2 separate regions of the Homo sapiens genome follow, and region 2 is linked to region 1. Evidence: fine-mapped expression QTL. A gene starts in region 1. The other region holds a variant in brackets. All regions are shown on one strand. Distances are between the middles of the regions.

What was found. PIP is the estimated chance that this variant, and not a neighbour inherited with it, causes the effect. A credible set is the group of variants that fine-mapping cannot tell apart.
Region 2: its variant is the best candidate, but not a certain one, in a credible set for the expression of C7 in testis (GTEx, PIP 0.89).

The regions. Positions count from the first base shown.
Region 1 is chr5:40,907,583-40,910,468 of GRCh38, forward strand. C7 (complement C7) reads left to right here and starts at 1,915. Exons shown (of 18, transcript NM_000587.4): 1 at 1,915-2,034. The coding sequence starts at 2,029.
Region 2 is chr5:41,265,463-41,268,390 of GRCh38, forward strand. No RefSeq gene overlaps it. Among named protein-coding and RNA genes, the nearest start is that of C6, 53 kb to the left of the region's middle. The variant C/T (reference allele first, on the strand shown) is at 1,247.

The sequences.
Region 1 (2,886 bases):
TATTTTTAGTAGAGATGGGGCTTCACCATCATGGCTAGGCTGGTCTTGAACTCCTGACCTCAAGTGATCCACCCACCTCAGCCTCCCAAAGTGCTGGGATCACAGGTGTGAACCACCACACCTGGCTGGACTAACTCTTAATTGCAGAGTTCGTGTGCAATGTCTTTCAGAGTTCCTCATTAGAACTGAACTCAAATTGCCCACTGGAGTCTCTTGCTTGATAAAACACCCTTTATTGACTTTCTTTTCTCCCCAATCTCACTTTCCCACTTCCAGTGGTGCTTTCTAAGATTATCTCTTAAAACAAAAACAAAAACAAACTACTTGCAATTGAATTCTTGTTTCTGAATCTACTTCTGGGGGAACCCAAACTAAGAGAGCCGCTGAAATGGAATTGTATATTGAGAATTTAAGATGAGTCTATGGCATCTGGAATTTATGCAGTTGGAGCTGAATAAAAAATATTTCTTTCAGGAGTCAGGATCTTTGTCTCTGTGACAAAATTTCTTCCACACAAATCACTAAAGCTTTGAACAAAAGATGCGGAAGCTTTGTCTCTGGAAACCACCATTAATTTATGAGGGGAGGATAGGGGTTGTCTTTATTATTCCAGTGCTTTGGATATAGGAAGAAAAAGTCATTAAAGCTAGAAAATCTTCACTAATGGAATGTTTACTTATAAAATTATTCTTAACTCAAATTTTCTTTCCCGCTTAACATTTATTCTACCTCACTCATAATGCACTAGCAGCTAGTGTTAGAATATTTGGTCCAACAATACAAATAAAACTGTAGCTCAATTTTTTTTTTTTTTTTTTTTTTGAGATGGAATCTCACTCTGTCTCCCAGGCTGGAGTGCAGTGGTGCGATCTCAGCTCACTGCAACCTCCGCCTCCTGGGTTCAAGTGATTCTTCTCTCTCAGCCTCCTGAGTAGCTGGGACTACAAGTGCATGCTACCATGCCTGGCTAATTTTTTTGTGTTTTTAGTAGAGACGGGGTTTCACTGTATTGTCCAGGCTGGTCTCGAACTCCTGACCTCTTGGTCCGCTCGCCTTGGCCTCCCAAAGTGCTGGGATTACAGGCATGAGCCACCGCGCCTGGCCAACTGTAGCTCAGTTTCAATAGGAAATCTAAAATCTTGCAAAATAAGCAGCATTTTATTAAATGTATGAAGGTGATGTTGGGGACTTGCTAGAATCAATGCAAAGCTATGGGAAAATAAAGACCTGGTAGAATAAGACAAGATAAAAAGCAAAGGAGAGAAAATGGATGTGGATAATGACCCTGAGAAGAACTTTCCAACACAGTGATCTGATTATCAAAGGATTAAGTGAAGTTCTTGAGAAAATTAGTGATGTCCTCAAATATGTTTACAAAAATTGATATTCTTTCTGATTATTCTGTGAAAGTTAAGCATGAAGGGATGACTATTGGGTTGTATTAGGCTGTACTTTGGGGAAAAATTCTACTCCAGAACATTCTATTTAGATTTTGAGTGACAGAACTGCATTTAAATATTTTCTTTCATAAAATATTTAATCTCAAAGTCTGGCATATAACACCTTTTAAGAGAATCATGAAAACATCCACTTAGTTTAGTAGATTGAAACAAGAAGGAGGCTCATCCCTTGCCTTACAGAGTCTCCTTTGGTTGAAAATCACTTAAACATTGAACTGAGAACATTTGCTGTGTTTCCTGATTTATAGATATGTTTCTAAGAAACATATCTATAACTTCCAAACAGTCCCAGCTGGCTGTAGCTAAGGCTGTGTAATTGATAAGATGCATCTGGTTTCAAGGCACAGATTAAGTACAAGGTCAGGCTCTTGCTGTCGTTGGAGAATCCGGTTGGGGTAGGAGCTAAATCTCAGGACCACTTGCTCTATATATGAGTGCCAAGATAATCTAGAGCAGGGAGAGGCAGAGAGGCAGGCAGCCTGCTGGGCTCTTCCTGCTGTTGAAAACTTACCCGGCCCTTACAGAGGAAATCTTCCTCCTCTCTTCTGCCCTGAATGTTTTCCCAAACATGAAGGTAAGACAATAAATTCATTACTTTTGTAAATGAAGCTATCTTTTCAAATGAACGGGGGTAATATAAATGTAATTTAAACGAAGAGGTGTAATACCTAACTGAAAGACATCAAATAAATAGAAGGCCAGAGGAAAATACAGAAGAAAAAGACCTGGGGGTGATGTTTAGAAATCCTTATTTAAACATATTTAACAGTTCAGCCAAAGTGAATTCCTTTTTCTTATCTTGTGGTGAAATTATAGGTCCAGAGGTCTGGGAATCAGGAATTGGAGACAATGTTTATGAAAGTCCCGATAAAGTCATAAAGAAATACAATAGTACTATTGTTATTTCTTGGGAAAAACTTTCCTCTGGTGTATTTTTTTTTTTTTTTTTTGCTTGTTTGGATTAGGAGCCATGCAGTAGGGTCCTGCGATTTATCTAAGAGCTAATAGAAAAGCAAATTTGCAGGCTTGGAACTTGAGAATTTGAAATCCTGGATGAAAGAGTCAGCATTGTGAGAATAGAAGATATGAGTAGATGGAATAAAACTAAAGGTCTACCAAGTATACATGTTGGCCCAATGCAAAAAGGCCAAATATTAAAAAACAAAACAAAACACAACCAAAAAGCTATTCAACAAAAGATAAGACCAAAGATAGAAATCGCTATCATAGACTAAATCTCTGGAATGCAAAAATAAGTTGAGATTGCTATTCAAATTTTATTATTGTAAATTTTGGTATTTAAACTTTAAAAATGTTGCATTGTAAGACTGTAGGAATAATTTCACAGATCTGTCAGTGGCTAGATTGCTTCCATAGTCACTGTATTGTCCATTGGGGCACCGAATCCAAGCTCGCTCATTATTGG
Region 2 (2,928 bases), 360 kb after region 1:
CAGCATGTCCACACTAGTCTTGACTGAAGTTAAAGGAAGATCTGGTTTGCACAAATATTTATTATTAAAATGTAATATCAACAATTCCTTAATTTGGAAAAATATGAGGAAATCATCTGTGGGCAGAAAACAATGGCTCAAGGAATTTTTAGAGCAAACAATTTTGATATCAGCAACAAATTATTGAAGCAAAAATGGAAATCTCACTCCCTTTGTCTTACTTTTTTAAGACAAGTGGAATGTTTACCTATTATCCAGAGCATACCTTTGTAAACCAAGGAATCACTCGAGAATAAAACGTCCTTATAAATAAGAGGCACAGAGGGATTGGAAGCTGTTCCCTGATATATGGCAAACACTAGCATTCCTTCCCTTTGGAAGAGAATGACTTTAATCTCATTTTTGCATACATCCAAAATGAGAATGCAGTTTTCTTAGGATGCTCTAGCAAAGCTCTTTCATTCAGACATGGGCACTACCTGGGAACCAAAAAGCTGAACTCTGATTTAAGCTCTGGTCATTATCTATGGAGCCTTAGAAAAAAAAAAAAAAAACTATCATCTGGCTTCAGCTTCCATATCTGCAAAACATGGAGATTAATTTAGAGGCATTTAAGGATTCCTCCCAGTACCAATATTTTGGAAATCTGTATTTCTCCCTGAAAATTCAGAGAAAGAAAAGAGAGGTTCATAGAAACCATGTCTCTAGTACATGTCCTGTTGGTCATGGGCATTAAAAAATAAAGATAATACTGTGGTTTGAGTAATGAAGACATTTTTATGTTTGTGAACAATTGTGTTTTCTATGCGAATCTCCAGTTAGGAATTACAGAACAAATAGAATTAGAATTTGTGGTGGTATGCTTACCGTGTATATAGTTAGGGACTTTTCTCCATGGCCAAAGAAGTATATGTCAACATGTCACAGCCTAATTTTCAAAATTTGTGAAGGAGAGAGATTAAGATGTTCTCTTCATTAAAATAGCACAGGAATTTTGGAGAAGATAAACCAAGTACAATAATACTTACAAGGCTCTGGGTTTTAGCACCTCAGCGGGCAAAGAGATGCTGTACCAAAATGTCTTCATAGGCAGGCAGATCTGTGAGATGCAGAACATGCTGGCCTGGCCTGCCCTGTGAAGTAAACAAGTCCCTTAGCCTCTTTTTGTCCCAGATTCCTTGTCCATAAAAAAAAGGGTTGAATATCTTATCTTCCTAGTCACTTTCAGTTCCAGAGTTTTATGACT[C/T]TTTAAGAACAGATTAAAACGTGGTCAAAGTAATATATAAACAAATTGTACAGATGCATATTTTAAATTCTTAAGAAAATATTAATAAGTTCTTCAAAGACACTCATTTAAATACGAATTATTTATGAGCTAATTAAAACTCATAGAGTCACATCACTTTAGATATGAAAGAAACCTTCAGTGTTCCACACATCACTGTATATCATGATTATTTGTGAATGTGTCCCTTCCTTGAAAGCTTTTGAGGACATAAATAGTCTATGTTTCTTTGTATCATCAGTGCTTATACCAGTAAAGATATAGAGTGTTTACTAAATAAAAATTAGTTGAGTAAATTTTGCAGATAAACAGAAACTTGAAAATATCTGCTAAACTACTCAAAGTTTCACACATAGCTAGAATAAAACGTCTCCCTCTTCTGATACCCAATGCAGAGACAGCTGATTTCTTCTTAAGGCTAAATTGTGATGTTTTCTAAAATGTATCATCGGTAATAACATTTACTTATAAAAACAGGTCTTCTGAGGACTTCAAGGCAGGACCAATAGAACTGAGCAGAGAGTAAAGCGCACAAAAAACATTTAGTAACTATTGATTGATTGATTGAAACATGAATCAAATTACTCTTATCTTCTTAAAAGTAATAAAGTTATATCTCTGTGGTAGCCATCCCAAGATGGCTGCCTTTCTTTCTCCTGTGCCTGTATTATGTGCTATTCCCTTACCAAGAGATGAAGCTTATTCCGCCACATCCTTGAATCCCACCCTGCCACTGATTTAACCATTAGAGTACTGACACTATATCAGGTCTGGTCCTGACCTTTGGGAGTATAACAGCTTTCACCTTGGTCTCTTGGAGGCCAGAGCCACCATACATAAAGTTCACCTTCAGTGCTGAAGAGGTACTTAGACTACATGGAGAGAGAGAGAGGCCCATCTTAGCCCAAACTTCCAGCCACCCCCACCCTGGCTCTTGGAATGCGAAGAAAGCTGCCTCAAACCCTCCAGAACAGCTCATCTAGCTAAATATCGCAAAGTGACCACAGTCAATGCCTCAAGGAGCAGAAGAATTATACAGCTGAGTCCCGCTTGAATTAAAGTCAGATAAAATATTGAGATATAATAAAAGATTATTGTTCTAGATTACTTAGTTTGGGGGTAGTTTATTATGAAACAATAAATAACTGGAACACTTCTTTATTGAACAAGTATATAATTTTACTTTTCTATTTTTCTATATTAGGAAATTAGAAAATAATTCTAATTTTCTGTAAGTAAAATTTTGCTGACCCCCCTACTCTTATCCCAAATAAATACAAGTTAGAAAGATTTAATAATGCTAATTTCAAGCTTTGCTATGTTAAGAATATGTCCAGGATATCAGCATTAAGAAAAGCTATAGCTAGCTTCTTTATTTTATAGAAAGGAAGTTAATTGTAATGTGATTTATGGTGCATAAGCTACAGTATCAATTTCTTTCCCCATAAATGTGCCCTACCTTTTACAGAGAAGCCAATTGAAGCAGTAAAAATTTGTCTTAGTACAGGCATTTATTTGGCCAAAAGAATCCTGAAAGAATGACTGTTGTATGTAAGCTGTTTCAGTCCCTTTCTTCCCCTTTTCCTTATCCTTTATTTAATATTTCCATTTTCATTTTAGACTCCTAACTCACTTATGTATGG